2 separate regions of the Homo sapiens genome follow, and region 2 is linked to region 1. Evidence: fine-mapped expression QTL. A gene starts in region 1. The other region holds a variant in brackets. All regions are shown on one strand. Distances are from middle to middle. Region 1 holds the start of PPA1 (inorganic pyrophosphatase 1). Region 2 overlaps COL13A1 (collagen type XIII alpha 1 chain).

Region 1 (9,169 bases):
GCCTTCTGGGTTCAAGAGATTCTCCTGCCTCAGCCTCCTGAGTAGCTGGGATTACAGGTGCGTGCCACCACATCCAGCTTATTTTTGTATATTTTTAAATAGAGACGGGTTTCACCATGTTGGTCAGGCTGGTCTCGAACTCCTGAGCTCGTGATCCGCCGGCCTTGGCCTCCCAAAGTGTTGGGATTACAGGCATGAGCCACCGCGCCCGGCCTAGTCTCACCTAACCGTTTTCTGGCTTTTGCCTTGTCCCCTTTGCCTTATTAATTCCATGTCATCATTCAGATTGCAGGTTACAGGTCACTTCCTTGAAGAGGTTTTCTGCTCCCATAATGTAATGCCCTGTACTTCCTATATCATTCTACTCACCCAAATTTATTATAATTATTTGTTGAAGTCTGTCTTTCTTCTAGACTATAAGTTCTGACTATAAGGCCTAGTAGGGCTACATCCCTACCCACCTATCACAGAGCATGACCACAGTAAGTGTTAAATAAGAGTTAGTTATAGATTTGAAAGTTTTCATGTTATAGGACCTCTAGGTGGTAGCTGACGCCAGAGATATACATGAGATAATCTAGACAAAGAGTATTGCTCTAGAGAGAGAGAGAGAACATGAGAAATAAGAAAGACAATGATGATTAAGATGATGAAATGAAGGCTGAGAAGGAGAATGAGAAATGAGTAGCAAAGAAGTAGGAATGGGCCGGGCGTGGTGGCTCATGCCTGTAATCCCAGCACTTTGGGAGGCCGAGGCAGGCAGATCACGAGGTCAGGGCTTCGAGACCAGTTTGGCCAACATGGTGAAACCCGGTCTCTACTAAAGGTACAAAAAATTAGCTGGGCGTGGTGGCAGGCGCCTGTAATCCCAGCTACTCTGGAGGCTGAGGCGGGAGAATTGCTTGAACCCGAGAGGCGGAGGTTGCAGTGAGCCGAGATCGCACCACCGCACTCCAGCCTGGGCGACAGAGCGAGACCCCATCTCAAAAAAAAAAAAAAAAGAAGTAGGAAGAACACGAGAAGAGAATGTAGTCGTGGCCTGGCACCGTGTCTCACGCCTGTAATCCCAACACTCTGGGAGGCTGAGGTGGGCAGATCATTTGAGGCCAGGAGTTCGAGGCTAGCCTGGCCAACATGATGAAAACACATCTCTACTAAAAATACTAAAATTAGCCAGGCATGGTGGTGCATGCCTGTGATCCCAGCTACTCAGGAGGCTGAGGTACAAGAATCACTTGAACCTGGGAGGTGGAGGTTGCAGTGAGCCGAAATCACACCACTGTACTCCAGCCTGGGTGACAGAGTGAGACTCTGTCTCAAAAAAGAAAAAAAAAAAAAAGAAGAGAATGTAGTCGCAAGCCAAAGAAGGAAATTAGAGACACCCAACAGGGTCACCCACAGCAAAGGGGACAGGATATGGACTGAAAAGTGCCACTAGATTTGGTCACTGAGTGAGAAAGATAATATTTGAGAAGAGATGGACTCCTTCTTTGTCAAACTAATGTACTTAAGAAGGTATTTTCCACCTTTACATTAATTCCTCTACCTATCCGTCCAGCAAAGATTCACTAAACATCTACTCTAGGCTGTGTACTGTGCTAGGCCCTAGGGAGACATGGTAGACCAAGGTCCTTTTGGGCCTATGGGCTCACTACACTTGCCTGCAAAGGAAAGTTACAATTCACCAGGGCTGGGTGTTTTACCAGACCTGATAATGACTGGCTCTCTGAATACATTCGATGAAACAAGAGCCAGTGTGCAAGTCTGGAGGTCAGTGAGACTTTATTATCTTGCTCTGAGCTGGCAGGAGGCAAAGGGAAAGTGTATGTAGAACATTATTATTGCATCACTGCTGTCTTCTTAAGTCAGTCACAGATGAGAGTCTGGGTTTTTCCAAGAAAATTGGTTCCATCTGCTCAAAGGCAGAAAAGTGATAGAGCAGTTCAATCAAAAGAGCATCCCCTTAAAATATTCTTTGAACTTGATCCTACTTTTTTTTCTGAAACAGAGTCTCGCTCTGTCACCCAGGCTGGAATGCACTGGCGTGATCTCAACTCACCGCAACCTCCGCCTCTCGGGATCAAGTGTTCTCCTGCCTCAGTCTCCCGAGTAGCTGGGATTACAGGCGCGTGCAACCACGCCCAGCTAATTTTTGTATTTTTACTAGGGACAGGGTTTCACTGTGTTGGCCAGGCTGGTTTCCAACTCCTGACGTCGGGTAATCCGCCCACCTCGGCCTCCCAAAGTGCTGGGATTGAAGGCGTAAGTCACCGCGCCTGGCCTTGACCCTAATTATTGACTAAACTATTGCTTCGCTAATTTTTTTTCCTGCCCTTCTGTTTTAACAGCAGTAAAACAGTGTGGTGAAATGTTCAAAAAATCAGTGAATCACAGCCTTCTGAAAATTAATGGGTGTCAGTGAGGTTTGGGAGTTGGATGGAGACAAAGGGAGCGACACCATAACTAACTGGAGATCTTACTAGGTTTTCATTTAATATTCATTTTTTACAATAGACATTGTTTGGAAAAAAGGGTTTAATTCAAAATGTCATTAAGGCACATTATCTTTAATGTTCTAGAAAAAGTTATTTAAAGAAATCCTGGCCATGAAATTAAAATAAATAAATAAATAAAACCAGGCATTCTTTGAAATGTGAATAATAATTTGCTAATTTATATTTAGGATTGTGGATATACTTTTTTTCTTTTACATGTATTCCTGGGGAGGTAAGTGATGCAAATATTTTCCCACTGCCTCAATCAGACTTTAGTTTTTGGGGTCTGGCCTGATATGATGGAATATAAACAGGAAATCAAGATCAGAAGAGCCTGTCCCTGAGAACACTCCTTCACGGGACTCTAGCTCACGCCTGGACCTTCCCAGTGCTTCCATCTGAAGCCCCTGGAGACCCAGGTGGGTTAAGTAGGGTGGCAGGGGGGATGGAGGGGGCGGGGGGCGCGGGGGCGTAAATCCTCCCCCACTGGGGAGGGTGACAGTAACAACTTCCAGATTGTTTACAAAGATACAGGCTCTGCTTCAGGCATTTGACGTGTATTAACTCGGGTAATCATCCCAGTAACTCATGAAATAGTTATATTATTATCTTCACTTCCCAGATAAGCAACGGAGTGAGAGAGATTATAGAAAGTGGAGAAGCGAGTACCTTACTAGTAGCCACTAGGGGTGTCAGTAATATGGCTCAACTTTGTTACGACGGATCAGAAAAATGCTCACCTTTAAGACCGCAAGCAGAGCCTGTCTGGGGAAGCAGGTGACTTATCAACGCCTTTTGAGATAAGGAATAGGACTGCGGGGAGGAGTGTGTGAGAATCAAAGGTGAGTTCCCTGTGTGCGTGGTCGGCGGTCAACTCCTAGCTAGTCCAAGCTTAGAGCCTGCGCATTTGCCCTCCCGGGTCAGAGCCCAAAGCCGAAGGAACAGAACCAGCGCCGGCGGCAGCCACGTGGCCCAGCCTCTGAGCCCTAGCTGCCATCGCGGAGGCTGGGCCCGAGGGGCGGGGCTGGGGAGTGCGGACACCCGGGCCTGGCGGAGTGCGCCTGCGCACGGGGTTGGCCCGGCGGGGGTGGGAACACTAGCAGAGCCGCGTTAAAGGCGCTCCCCGCCCCGCCCGCCGGTCCAGTGCTCGCAGTGCGCAGGCGTGGGGCTCTCTCCTTGTCAGTCGGCGCCGCGTGCGGGCTGGTGGCTCTGTGGCAGCGGCGGCGGCAGGACTCCGGCACTATGAGCGGCTTCAGCACCGAGGAGCGCGCCGCGCCCTTCTCCCTGGAGTACCGAGTCTTCCTCAGTGAGTGTCTGCGGCCCGTGGCCCCTCCGCGCCCGTCCGCCCATTCATTCCCGGGCCTTGCCTCCCCGGGAGGGTGCGGCCCGCGCTCGGCCCCAGGTCTCCGACGCGGGCCCGTCTCCTCGGGCGCGTTGTGGGGCCTGGCCGGCCTCACATTGCATACTTGCCGCCGCCGGTCGGGGCGGCGAGGGTCGCCTCCGGCCATCCCTCCCCGCTGAACGGAGATGGTCCCTTTGTCACGCCTCGGGGTACCCGAACCTGGGCCCAGCTAGTTTTGCAGGTGTCTGGCTCTGACAGGGTCTGTTGGGAAAAGGAAATCACCGACCCACCCTAGAAAGGTGCTTGGAAGTAACATAATTCCCGTAAGAGGATTGCTCAGTTTGGAGAAAAGGCGACTCCGGGCCGGGGGGGGCAGTGACTTCCTAAAGACCTTAATTCCGCCGCCGTAGCTCAGATTATCGGCGCTGAGCGGAGCCAAGTCCACCCCCTCGTTTTACAGACGGGAAAACTGAGGCCCGGATCGGGAGCCGTCTGTGAAGGCGCTGGACCGGTCCTCCGCGGCCCGGTCGTGCTCCTGCCTCTGCGCCGCCTGTTTTCCCTCAGCGCCGATGCTGGGAATGCTCCTTATGAAACAGAAAGCTGTTTCCCTCAAATCAAACAGATGACGTCAGTCTGGAAACAAGACTGAGAAAGTGCCAAGTTTTTACCTTTGCAGGATTCGGCGTCTAGGGGGTACCTACCCCGGGTCCTGCACCTAGGGCTGCACGGGGAAACCGGGAGGCTGCATGCTGGCGCCCTCCACGCTCCTTAGGGCACCACGTTTTTTTGGCCTTGTAGGTGGAGGAAAGCTACTTGGGGTTTTTCTTTATCCTCTTACTCCCCCCACCCCCAGCTACTAGGAGTAGATTATGGGCGATAACGGAGGCGTTCGTAAATGTGTCACCACAGGCGCTTCTATTGTAACCTCTTTACAGTTTTATTTGGAAGGAAATGGGCAGGTGCCTCGAACTCTGAGTTGGTGTATGAAGGAAGGGGAAGCGGGGAGTAGAGGAGACGAATGAATAGGCATTGAAGGAACAAAAAGTAGCCTGGTGCGGGAGGAAAAGGAAAGCGAACTGTAAAGCTTACACATCTAGCCAAAGGTTAACTATCAGGTAAAATCCAGGAAGGGTGAGAACTACCCCCCACTCTCCATTTTATTTAATTTTGCAATTAAGCAGCAAGGACAGTCCAGTAACTTTTGACTAATAATTCATGGGACTGTTTTTCTGGAAATAGTGTTGGCTCCAGAATTTCTCTGTAGGAAAGGCTTACAGAGGTGACTGTCTGGTTTGAAGGTGAGGGGTGGATCTTCAAGCTATATATGCAGAACAAACACACTGCTTTTACTTAGGTTATTTATTTGCAATTAATATTTGGTGGCCGTTATGGGAGACCAAAGCTACTCCTAGAATTTGGCACTAGCTGAAGTAACTGTTTTTATCAAGTGGAACTCTCTGGAACTTAAGAAATACTAATAATTAGAACCCACTACATAGTTATCCAATTTTAAGTGCTTTATCCTTCCTTAATAGAAATAAACTTTTTTAAGCTTTATAATATTACATTTGTCAATTTCTTTAAAACTGATAAAGGGCTGGACAGACTGCAAAGTCACAATTGGCCCTAAAGGGACTTTTATGTTTTATTGTTTGTTTTTTGAAACAAAGTCTCGCTCTGTTGCCCAGGCTGGAGTGCAGTGGCATGATCTTGGCTCATTGCAACTTCAGCCTCCCGGGTTCAAGTGATTCTCCTGCCTCAGCCTCCCAAGTAGCTGGGATTACAGGCACTTGCCACCATGCCTGACTAATTTTTGTATTTTTAGTAGAGACGGGGTTTCACCATGTTGGCCAGGCTGGTCTTGAACTCCTTACCTCCAGTGATCCACCTGCTTTGGCCTTCCAAAGTGCTGGGATTACAGGCGTGAGCCACCGTGCCTGGCCTCCACTTTGATTTTTAAACTTGAAGGGATGCGATGTGGACAGTAGGTTTCCTAAAGAATACTGAAGAAGTTTTAAAATTACTTTTTGGCTATAGTTAGGCCTCTAGAATATATTAGTAATATATATCTAGAATATAATAGAAATTATTTGTGAAGATGTTTGTTGCAACTTGATTATCCTTAAAGAAAGTCATAATCTAAGATGGCTGGCTGTCTCTGGGAACACCACTTTTAGCAACATTGTTTAGTAAAGTGGTCCCCTCCCTTCCTCCCAAGTACTTCATAATGGTTCTGTAAACTTAACTGATGTAAGATCAGTCCAAAACAATTTAATCGCCTTTTGTGTCCTCAGTAGTCTCTGCTCTCACTATAGAGATTAGTACTTATTAGATGCCTACAGAGTGCATAGGATGTAAACCCAGCCTAGCCTGGGAGTACAGTCAGGAGAAGTGAAGTATACAAACAGTTTTTCTAGTGTAAGAATAATATCTTGGTTTAAAAATGTGTACTGGTCGGGTGCAGGGTGCGGTGGCTCACCCCTGTAATTCCAGCCCTTTGGGAGGCTGAGGTGGGCAGACTGCTTTGAGCTCAGGAGTTGGAGACCAGCCTGGGGAACATGGCAACACCACCTCCCTACAAAAGACACAAAAATTAGCCAGACGTAGTGGCTCATGCCTGTAGTTCCAGCGGCTCAGGAGGCTGAGGCTGGAGGATCACTTGAGCCTTCAAGAGGGAAACAGAAGTGGCAGTGAGCCAAGATCACACCATTGCACACCATCCTGGGTGACAGAGTAAGGGACCTTATCTCAGAAAAAAAAAATGTGTACTGTGGGCATTTAGCAATACAATTAATTATAGTAATAACTTTTTCTAATTTATTTTGCAGAAAATGAGAAAGGACAATATATATCTCCATTTCATGATATTCCAATTTATGCAGATAAGGTAAGGCATCCTTGTTTTTGGACACAGTCTCTTTACTCAGATCAGCTAGTTCTACATATGAATTTTCTTATATGTCTCTCAACAAGTGCTTAAAATGCCTCGTTGTGCTGTGAGCTAAAGGTCTGTTGATTAGGCTGGGCGTGGTGGCTCACGCCTGTAATCCCAGCACTTTGGGAGGCTGAGGCGGGTGGAGGGCTTGAGTCCAGAAGTTCAAGAACAGCCTGGGCAACATGGTGAAACCCTGTCTCTACAAAAAATACAAAAATTAGCCGGGCATGGTGGCATGTGTCTGTAGTCTCAGCTACTTGGAAGGCTGAGGTGAGAGGATCGCTTGTGCCTGGGAGGCAGAGGTTGCAGTGAGCCGAGATGGCACTACTGTACTCCAGCTGGGTGACAGAGTGAGACCCTGTCTCAAAAAAAAAGGTCCATTGACTAAATAAGAAGTTAGTCTTAAAACTAGATTATTTAGTTAAAGGAGCAAATATAATTTGGGGAAGGAGAGGAGGAGTAAAAGCAAAAGTATTTAATCTGTCTTGGAAAAAAAAAAGAAAAAATTACATTGGTCCTTTTTGTATGTGTATTTGGAACTAAAGTCGTAATACTTCATTACTGGTTCTAAAATAAACCAGGTAGCCAGCACAGAATTTTGGCTGTGGGATCTTTATGAAACAGTAAAAGTAAACTAGATTATTCAATGAGTATAGGAAAATTTAGTAACGGGCTAGTACCGTTAAGATTTGCACAGTTAAGATAGAGTTAATACAGGTAGGCACACAGACTTCTAAAAGGACATAGCTGTTCCTGTATACACCAGTGAGAAGAAACCTAACTTTAATACAGATTGGTAGGCTTACCACAAATTGTAAAAGTCTTTACTTTTCTAGGGGAAAAAGAAGTCTACAACTGTATACACCAGAATAGCTGAGTGTGGGGCAATTGTAATCCCACTTGGGAGGCTGTGCTGGGAGGATCACTTGAGTCCAGGAGTTTGAGACCAGACTGGGCAACATAGCAAGAACCTGTCTTAGGAAAATAAATAACAATAAAATATATATCAAAATAGTTATGATTCGTGGGACTGCCAGTGACTCTTGGTTTTATTTTCATTTTTGTCTTTTTATATTGTCTAATCTTTTTACAAAGAACATGTGTTATAAGAACAACTTTAAACAGTCATTTTAAAAAACACATCTTTTCTTACTCTCCTTTCCAATGGAAGCAGTTTGTACTGTATTTAGCAACTTAACACAAGGACAAATATCTTATTCTTTTTCTACCTTTCAGTTTTTTTCCTTCAGTAAGGAAGTTTGATTCACATTGAGTACAAAGGTTTTTGAGTTGTAAGAGTTACATAGGTTATTGACTTTCTTTAGCTAGATGTCAATATACAACACGAACATCACTTTGCAGTGCACGTCTAGAATAATAGTAATTTTGTTCTTGTGTGTGCTGTCTTACTGTTTTTCTGGGCCTGACTATTAGATAGAAATAGACACATTCATTGCACTTCTACCAGGAAGTTTGCTGCAGTTCTGTACTGCCTGAAATTCCAATTTTTACATTGCTTCCCAGGAGCCTTCCTGGGTAAGACTCCAATTAGAGGCAATGGAGCAAACAGCCCTAGGCCAATTATGTGCCACAAATACAGGAGGGACTTCTAATTGGCATGTGTTTTTCCTGTGGGAGTGTCAGAGTGGTATTTATTCAGAAACTCGAATTTGTTACATCTGATTTCCTGGGAGTTGATATAAACTGCAGAATCCTTCCCTCTTCAATTGGCCCCATTGGGTTGGCTTGAATTATCTGCTTGTTGTATAATAGCATGTATATCATACTGTAGCATCTCAGACCATTTTGAGCAATGAAGAGGTATAAAATGATGACCCTAAGTTTATTGATAATACCCTGGCATACAGGTATGCTACAGGTAGGAAAACATTTTCTTGACATAGAGCTATTTTCCCAGTGTTCTAAGTGACTGTATTCCTACCAAGGACCAGAATGATCATAGATGTTTTGGTACCTACTCTTATTGCTGCTTCAGGTTACTCCAAAATAGGAAACAGGCTACATTTTGGTGTCCTGTTAAGTGTGTTCACTTAGATTACTCTCAGACACTGAAGCCTTATAAGGGACTGGTTGTGTCTATAAAGTGGATTACTCAAAGGAAGACTCTGCCCTTGGCACGCCCTGTCCCAGCTCAAAAGCACAAGTTCTTATGACTCTGGATTTTACCAGTAGTCTAGACCTCAGTGGACCTTGGGCAGAAGCCTTCCTGCCTGAGAGGCTGGAAGGAATTCTTTTGTTTTGTTTTAAAGGAAGTTACTTGTTTAAAACACAAATAAAGGTGTGGTAGACATCATTTTGGATTATAGCCTTAAAAAAAAAATCTGATTAACTTGATTCATTAGAGTGTGATTTTCTTTCTTTTGTATAAAAAATCTA
Region 2 (9,425 bases), 340 kb after region 1:
TGTTGTCTTTTGTGCTGGGGGATGTTGTCTTTCTTTCGGGTAACATAATAACCCCGTGAGCCCATCGTTTCAAATAAACACAGCTGACCTTCTATTATTGTATCAGGATCAGGCTGGCCGGAACAGCAGGGCCCCTGCATCCCTGGAGCACATGCCGCTGACAGGCTGTGGCTCTGACTGTGCTGCTGCTGGCCTGCCTTCCTCAGCCCGGGCCCAGCACCGCCGTAGCCTTAAACCCATCCCAGCCTCTCACGTACCAGGCTCACAGTGGTTCCCTGGCCCAGGAACCCAGACCTCAGGCCTGCCTTCCAGCTTCCTGAGGGTCTGGGCAGAGGCTAGGCCCTGCTAGCATTGCCCTCCTGACAGCCTTCTAGAGTCAAGCTGGCACTGAGCCTGGCTTATGTCTGTCTCCACTCCCAAAATCGCACCACCCGGACCTGCCTGGCAGGGGTGGGCAGCCAGGGAAGCTGAGCACCATGGGGCACATGACAGCGGGGAGAGATGCCTAAAGATGCTCATCTTCCATCCCTGCTGTCCAGGTCTGGGAGCAACGAGGCCAATCCACAAAATGAGGGGCATTTTTTTCTGGGTCCAGCTCACTGGGGCTCCTACTGGAGGAAGCTGTGCGTATCTTGCTCTCCCCTGTCCCAAGATCGACCCTGCTGCTGGGACACAAGTTTGAAGATTCCTAACAGGACAACAGCAGTCTTTTGGGTTCTGTGTCTTGGGGTGGAGCAAGGAAAAGGAAGGAGCAGGCGGGGGTGGGCAGAGGAACCATCTCAGCCTGAAATCCCCACCCTGCTTGGAGAAGGGTTTCCTCTGCTTTTAAAGAGGCCAAGGAGAGATTTTATCCTTGAATTGCTGCAGTCAGTCCCCGATTATCTCCCATCATCGAGGTTTGGATGTGAAACACCATCATCTGATACAGTGACTAATAGAAAAGTCCCACTGTTTTGGCCACGGCTAGGCTGCCAGACACCACCCCCCTACCGCCACACACACGCACACACATGCTTGTTGGGTGGGGAGTCAAACAGACTCACACAAGTCACGCTGCCACAGGGGGCCATGTGCAGAGCAGCCACAGAGCTCCAGACACACAGCAGGAGACTCCAACATACCGAGTCAGACGTACGTACAAAGGGGCGGATGTACAGACACGCACGGGTGATGAGCGGCTCCATATAGCACATGGCTGGAGAGACACATCAGCTGTTCCCACCAGACGCACCACCATCCCAAGCTCCCCTCTCTGACTGCTGAGTGCAGAGGGCAGTGGGTGCTCCTGCTCCCCCATGATCTGTTAGTAACTGGAGACCCCAGGGAGATGAGGCTGAGCTGGGCGCTGTGCCCCAGGGATGGATCAAAGTGCCCTGCTAAATTTTAGGGGTTCACTTACCCGGTGTGGGTACTCTCCACACTGACCCTGGGAAGGAGAGGGAAGGGAAAGGTGGTGTTAGGCACTTGTTGGGGGTACCTGTTTCTCAGGGCACCCCCAGCACTTCAGGACATGCCACACATGTCACCGCTCACCAGCCCTCCTGCTCTAGTTTTGGTCTGAGCCCTCTGAGGCAGAAGAACTAAGTCCCTCCCTTGCCCCTGGCTAGCAGCAGGGAAGAAACTTCCATGGCCTGCCTGGAAGTGGCCCCAGGGAGCCTAGGGGTGGGGCTTCGCCTTATACCACTTGCCATAATGGCAGAGTCGGGAGTTATGCCCCATGCCTGGCGAAAGGTTGACCCTCTAGGCAGGCCCACCAGACAGCCCTGAACAGGAGCCACCGGATGGGAGCAGCCGGCACCATGGGGGTCCCAAGCCACCTTCTCTGAGCTGGGAGCGCCAGGCCCCTGTACCAGCGGCCCAAGGGCAAGCACAGCAGTGTCTCTATCAGAAATTCAACAAGACAGAGAGGGCAGGAGGCCAGGCCAGTGGTTTACAGGTTGATGCCTCTCAGAATCCCAGAGGCTCATGGAGGTGTCAGGGAACACCATGGAGTGACAGCTGGGAGGGGCCCAGAAAGAGGCTGAAGAGGGCCAGGCTCCAGGAGGACCCCTGGAAAGGATGTCACCCGGACCAGCCTCCAGGAGGACCCCTCACTCCAAGAAAAGGATGTCCCCTGGAGCGGTGTCAACCGAATCTATTATGCGGCACCTCGGGGGCTTTCCTGGTTCTGTCAATTAAAACTGAAGTTTGAAAATAACCATAATTGACCCCTTTCTACCAACTGGGAGGCCATTTCCTGAGATGGAGACTCTAGGAAACCTCCACTGCTCTTACCTTTTCTCCTTTTTGTCCCTGGGGTCCCTACAAAGAGACGGAGATGAGAGAGTTAGAAACCAAAGCTAAGGTCACAGCCACCGGAAGCTTCTCTGCTGGGAAATAGATGGATGAGGTACCAACCGGCTGTCCTGGGGGACCCGTCAGACCCTGTGGGAAGCAAACACACACAGGTCAGTGGGCAGACAGAAGACAGGCAATCAGGGACACCTGCCTGGGTGGGGATTGGGGCTGAATCCCGAAGGCTGGGCTCTACCAGCCATGGCCAGGTCTTCCCATGCCCACCACATTCAAGATGTCTTATTCACAGAGTCTCAGCTGCTTCACCCCCCAGTGGGCAGGACTAGGGCTGTGATGAAGAACAGATGGCATCTTTCATCCATTCCTCCAACCACCAGCATCTCATGGGCCAGCTATGGAGGGGCTCTACCTAGAGGTCAGGGAGTTTTCTGCTCCATGGGACCCCCTACCTCACATGCATCAAGCCTCTGGGAGACACTAGCACATTCCACCTCCTGCCTCCCAGGCTGCAGTGAAGCCCACTGAACCAGAAGAACTTCTGGCCTGGGGGTGCTGGGCCGGTGCCTCAGACAATGGGGGCCTTAGAGAAACCTTCAGCAAAAGAGAGAAAGCAGGAAGTTGGCAACTGAAGCCATGTTCTGGACTTCTCCAAGGAATATGAGGGGTCTTGAAGTTTCCTTCAAGGTTGTCTTGTCCATGCAGGGCTAGGAAAGGAGCTGGGGTTGGGAGGGACCCTTGCTGTCTGGGGAGGGCCCCGCATGCTCTGGCTCTCTTAGGAGGCTGCACCAAGGCTGGTGGAGGGAAGAGGAGAAAACAAATGCCTTATGGGCTGAGGATCCACCCTGAGGCTGGCTCTTCAGGTATGTGTCTGTGAGGGAGATGCTTGTGTCCACTCCAGCTCCCGAGTGAGGTGACAGAGACAAGGCCCCATGGCTCAGTGAAAGGTGGCACTGGGACAGGAGCCCAGGTTTGTCTGACGGCCAAGGTCCAGCTGTTTCCACTGCCAAATGCTCAGAACTGGGCCAGACCTTGGGAGTCAGGGCTTCTAGACTTGGCTAGAGCCATAAGCAGGTCCCTTTGAGCCACCAGTCTCTTTGGGGCCTGAAGCACTGCAGATCCCCAAGGGTGGGTCCATCTGGGAGGTGGCCGCAGCATGCTGTGATGTGCCAGAGCCTTGTTCCTGCTCCCCGCTTGCCAACAGGGCCACCTCCAAACTGGGAAACTCCCAAGAGCATCACTGGAAGGGAGAAGTGGCCTTTGGGACCATCCATGTGGCACTCCCAGCCCATGTGGCTGGCCAAGTGTTTATTGGTCTTTTATTGTTTTATTGAGACAGGGTCTCGCTCTGTTGTCCAGAATGGAGTACAGTGGTGTGATCTCCGCTCACTGCAGCCTCTGCCTCCTGGGTTCAGGCAGTCCTCCCACCTCTGCCTCACAAATAGCTAGGTCTACAGGCACACACTACCGTGCTTGGCTAACTCTTGCATTTTTTTGTAGAGACAGGGTTTTGCCATGTTGCCCAGGCTGCTCTCAAACTCCCAGACTCAAGCAATCTGCCCGTGCTGGCCTCCCAGAGTTCTGGGATTACAGGTGTGAGCCACCGCGCTCGGCCTGGCAGAGTGCTTAGAATGAAGTTCTGCAGCACATGATTCATCCGGCAGGGAACCCGGGCCCAGACCACAGGTGACCAGGTCATCCTCTGTCAGGACAGAGATATAAGTGTGATGGGGGAGGGGCAGGCGGAGTTTCAGGACTGCAGAGACTTGGACAATTGAAACCAGACATCCCAAACGGTGGCCCAGGGGACAATCGTGGTCTTCATAGGGATTTTGTTTGTCCCACATGGTTTTATTTCAACTAGTTGCCAATACTTAAGAGAGCAAGCAGAGTGCAAATAAAAATTTGGATTTCAAGTTTCTCTTAATTATGTCGAGGTCCAACAACACATGGTACCAGTTATCTTCAGCCAGGCAGCACCTGCCCCTTTAAGGGCCATGGCCACCGGTGATGTGCTTAGCACTTGCCAGCAGGCCTGTGCTAACCGCCACTGAGGCATAGCTAAGGCGCCTGTCTGCTTCTCGGGTGCCAAGCATGTTCTGAGTGCCTGGCGCTCCTCACTCGACAGCCCTGTGGGTGGTGGGTGAGATTTGGACTCAGTCCAGGCCTTGCTTTACAGCCCTTATGTCATTCCTGAGTCTCAGACCCCCAATCTTGTCCACCCCCCAACTACACTATTATACAACTGTGTCCTCCCAACACTTCAACACCTTATTTCAGGTTCTTGGGAATAATGTGAAGTGGGGGGGTGGGGCAGAGGTGACTCCCTTTTGAGAGGTGAGGACACAGGTTAAACAATGAGGGTGAGTGCCAGTGCCCCAGTGGGACGCCAGTGGAGGGGACAGCATCTGGGGCAGGAGACAGACAGATGAAGAGCAGGGCAAGGTAATGATGCTGGACAGCGGTGGGCAACTAACAGCTCGGGTACCCATGCCAAGCCAAACAGGAATCAGATGCTCTGTGGCCTGCTGGATTTGATGAGGCAGACAGGGGATCTATCCCACTGATGTGGGCTCA[C/T]GAGAGAGGGGGTGGGCCTGCCTTTTCTGTTGAGTTAGCTCTGATCCCTGGACAGGCGGTCAAGTGTGTGGGGCAGAGGGACGGTGTGGCAGAATGAGGGCAGGAAAAGCGGCCCCATGGAAGGGTCCCTTTCCTCCAGGACAAAGTGCTGGCTGCTGAGAGGAGGTGTGATCGAGGGGTAAGACTCCACTGCATGGGTCTGAATCTCAGCTGTTGTATTTAGGAGCTTTGTGGCCTCAGGCAATGTACTTAGCCACTCTGTGCCTCAATTTCCCCTCTCATGAAGTGGGGATGATAAGCTGTTATGAGGATGACAGAGTGCTGCCTAGAGGATGACCATTATTATTACTTCTGGGGGGCCATGGGCTGCCTTACGGTAGCATAAGGCTGCCAGAGAGGGAAAGAAGCTCAGGCTGAAGGGATGAGCACCCCAAGCCCTTTATGCCTCTATAACAATGTGGCATGGCAGTTTCTTCCTGCCTCGGTCTCCACTACTCCATGCATGTGCACAGCATGCCTGGGAATGGGGTAGGGGCGGGGGGAAATGCATTTGCAGCGGAGGCAGCTGTGATGGAGAGGAAACCTTGCTGGGGAACCTGGATTCCAGCGCCAGCTCTTCTGCCACTGCCTCCAGGGCCTTCTGCCTCCAGTGCCCTTCCTCCGGTTCTGCAGACATGTCAAGGATTTTCCTACCTCAGGACCTTTGCACGTGCTATTCTCCCATGTCCAGAAAGCACATTCCCATCCCCCTTTCTATTTTCTCTCGGTTGAATGCTCATTCTTCAGGCACTAGTTCAAAAGTCTCTTTCTCAGAAAAGCCGTCTCCGACCTTTGGCCTGGGTGAGGTTTTTGTTATACCAAGATTTCCAGGGCACTAAGGATTATCTTTTTATAGCACTCATTGCAAAGCAACTTGTTAGTTATGTGAGTGATCATTTAAAAGGATGTCTCCCTACTAGACTGTGAGCTACAGATGGCAAGAACAGTCTCTCTCTTGCTCCCGTCTGTATCCCTAGCACCTGAAGCAGTGCCCAGCACATTTTAGATACTCCATAAAAAATGCATTAAAAGAAGGAAGGTGGCAGGAAGGCTGACAAAGAGTGAGGGAAACAGAAAGGGAGGAAGGTAATAAAACCTTAATAAAAAAAGGGAGGGAAGGAATTTGAGAACTGTGTTTCGATCTTGTTTTGGACATTCAGCTGTGTGACTTCAGGCAAGTTAGTTAGACTCTCTGAGCCTTGGTTTCCACACCTGTCAAAGGGGATTCTAGCAAGACCTGGAGCACAGAGTTACGCTGAGGATTGAGACAGTCATGCAAAGTGCTTAGCCCAGTGCCAACCACGTGGCAAACCCTCAATAAATATTAGTTGGATCTGAGTCAAGAGGACAGGTTGGGGCCCAGAGGGAGCTGGCAAGTTAGGAAGAGCTAGGCTGGAGCCCAGGCCTTGCAGCCAACACTCCACCATCCCCCTTTCCACCCACATGATTACCTGCCTCCCTCCATGCCCTGGCAGTGCCCCAGTCATGGGTCAAGGGTTGTCTTCACACCAGCGCTTGGAGCAAGGCATGAGCCAGGCCCCCACTGAACAGGGACAGGGGGAGCCTGCTGCGTTGCTTTCACCACCCTGCACAAATTCCTGGCCCACCAACCTGTGGAGCAGGAGGTGGTCCCTCACAGTAGGTGCGACCTGGATCTTAGGAGGCAGAAATGCACCCCAGCCCAGGGCTGTTTTGTTTGTCTGTCTGTTTGTTTGTTTTTTTAAAGCAGGGATTTATTGAAAACCAAAATACACTCCACAGTGTGGGAGCAGGGGCCCATTAGCTCTTAATGGCCCATCAGTCCCTGCTGAGATCTGGCCCACCGTGAGAGTGCGCAGCCCCTCATTCCCTTCTGGAAGGGATGGTCTGTGGAGACAGAAAATTTATTTCCAAAGCTCTGCAGAAGGTAGGGGCCAGGAGAAAGCTGGGCCAAATGTTGTCTCTCCACCTTTTTGGGGCCTGAGGCACTCCAGGTACCCTGGGCAGATCCATCTGGGTGGTGGCCGCGGGATGCTGTGACATGGAAGAGAAGACCTTGCTCCTGCTCCTGACTTGCCAAGTGGCCCAACCTCCAAACAGAAACTCCCAGGAAGGGAGAGGGGAAGGGGCCTTTGGGATGATGCATGTGGCACCCCCAGCTGAGATGATCCACTGGGCACCACCAGCCCCAGTGGGGCAGGAACCCCTGGAGTCCTGGGGTGGCTCAGGGCACAGCCAGCACCCGGAAGGGGTTATGAGGCCTTGAGGGACCTCAGGCTCAGTAGAAATGGTGTCTCCTAGAGAAAGTGTCCCCTGTGAGTGCAGATGAAACCTTGTCTCCCAAGGCCCATGCGAGTGTGGTTTGAGAGCAGTAAGCTGGACACCGACCTCTGTGTGCTACCAGCCAGGTGTGCACTCTCTCTGGATCTCCCATCCTCATGCTTCAGATGGAGAAGCCCCTGCCCATTTCTCCTCCCTGCATATTGATGTGAGGATCCAGGGCATGTGGTTTACACAGCTGGGGAGTGACCAGCATGGACAGCCATTCCTGTTGTCCCTGTGGGACCCACTTTGCAGTGCTTGGCTGTGCCTGTGAGGCTGGGCCAACCCCCACCCATCTCGGGAAGGCAGGAAAGCTGGGCTCTTACCATGTCGCCCTTTGGTCCTGGGTGGCCCTGGAAGGAGAAGAGGGTGAGTACCAGGTGCACTGTTCGCAGCCCAGAAGTTCCACCCTCTGTCCTTCATGCTCCTCCCTGCCCCCTGTGCTCCTCCCTGCCCCCCGTGCTCCTCCCTGTCCCCTGTGCTCCATCTGCACCTTCTGGCTTGTGCACTCCTTCACCCAGTCCCTAAGGCAAGGTCATTTGCTCACTGCCCCTCGCTGGGCCTCACTAGCAGCTGCCTGCCCTTCAGAGAGCAGGGGTGGGGGTAGTCTCCCTAGACCCCAACGCTCATGCCATTCACATGTCCAGGGTAGCTTCGGGGGATGCCTGGTCCCGTGACATGAGTGGAAATGATTGCTGGCACCCCTGGGCTGCACTTAGCTCGCTGGCCTGCAGTTGGGGAGTAACTGGGTGGTGCTAGGGTCCCTCAACTGAGAGAGGCGAGTGGCGGGGCCAGGCATGGCTGTGAGTGGGGCTGCATTCCGTCCACCCTGAGGGCTTTGGATGGGTCATGCTCCCTTCCAGCTGACTTGCTCCTAGGACTGGGGAGGGGACTCCTTTCTCCCATGAACATTTGTGTCAGGGAACCAAGTCCAAAGGATTGAAATGAACGAAGAGAGGAGCTATGGTGGGAAGCAGTCTCCACGTGGACTTGAGCACACGTGTGGGGTCTCAATCGGGGAGGGAGACCCTGACCTCGAGGACAGGGCCATGGGAGACACAGGTGCTGGGGAGCAGGGGCAAGCGTGTGCATGAGTGGCCAGGCTCTTCAGACCAGCTATTTGACCTCCGTACCCTCCACTCTCCTCACTGCCTCCTGATCTCACCCCCACCCCACCCAGAATCACCCATTCTAGGGATGGCTCTCGCCTGGACTTCGAAAGCCAAGCTCAGCAGCTGGGGACCTGTGCCCTGGGGAAGGCCACTGGGGTCAGGGGTGACTCAAATGGCCCCCTCCACTTCCCACTAGTGACAACCTTCAGCCCCAGGACTTTTCTTTCTAAGTAAAGCATTTTCCAAGGATTCAATATCTTGCAGAATGACCAAGAGATCCAGGATCACTGACCTGCAGTGAGGGGAGAGAGCGGGTCCACTTACCGGTTTGCCGTCCAGCCCAATGGGACCCTGAAACCAGAAAGGCCAGATGTAAAGACTGAGCATCACAGGACTCCTGCCAAAGAGGCTGCCTGGGCAGTGGGGAAAAGCACAGATTCTGGATTCTGATAAGTTGGAGCTCAAGGCCCTGCTTGACCACGTACTTGTTAATGTGACTATGGGTAAGCCTAGGCCTCAACTTCCCATCCTGAAATGGGGTTGAGAATAATAGAATGTTGGATGCCAGGTGCACAGCGCAAGAGAGAACCCAATGGGTGGCCTCCCCATTAATGTCAAGGACCTCACCCTTGTCCTGAGTGCAGAGTAGGTGGTGTGTTCCTAGAAATCAGGGGCTGGCCTGCATTGAGGTTGGGAGAAAGGGGGAACTGCTCCCTCTGCTCTGCCTGTCAGAACCTGCCTTAGGCCCCATAAGCAGAGGTCAAGGACACCCAGATGGCCACCCCTCTGCCTCCCCCTCGCTGGATCTCCTCTCAAAGCTCAGGCACAGGCTGAGCTGCAGGGTGTTCTCCCACAGGGCATCGTCCATTCTATATTCCCAGGTCAATGCTGGGGTTTATCAGCCTGTGACTTCACTCACCTGGGGCCTGTCCTGCTGCCCCTTAATTTGTGTATTTGCTCCCCTGTATTTATTCCTTGCATCATGACCTGACTGCTGAGCTACTGTCCTGAGTTGGTGTCCATGAATGGCTGTAGAAGCAAGTCCTTAATGACCAGGGTTTGGGAGAGAAAGAGTGGAACCGGGGCTGACCTCAGATGAAGTTT

The links. PIP is the estimated chance that this variant, and not a neighbour inherited with it, causes the effect.
Region 2: its variant is fine-mapped to the expression of PPA1 in ovary (GTEx, PIP 0.95).

Annotation. Positions count from the first base shown.
Region 1 is chr10:70,227,896-70,237,064 of GRCh38, reverse strand. It overlaps PPA1 (inorganic pyrophosphatase 1), which reads left to right and starts at 3,636. Exons shown (of 11, transcript NM_021129.4): 1 at 3,636-3,801; 2 at 6,666-6,724. The coding sequence starts at 3,738. RefSeq lists a silencer at 3,425-3,994.
Region 2 is chr10:69,887,551-69,896,975 of GRCh38, reverse strand. It overlaps COL13A1 (collagen type XIII alpha 1 chain), which reads right to left. Exons shown (of 41, transcript NM_001368882.1): 9 at 8,646-8,672; 10 at 7,536-7,562; 11 at 2,398-2,424; 12 at 2,275-2,301; 13 at 1,400-1,426. Among named protein-coding and RNA genes, the nearest start is that of COL13A1, 90 kb to the right of the region's middle. The variant C/T (reference allele first, on the strand shown) is at 4,870.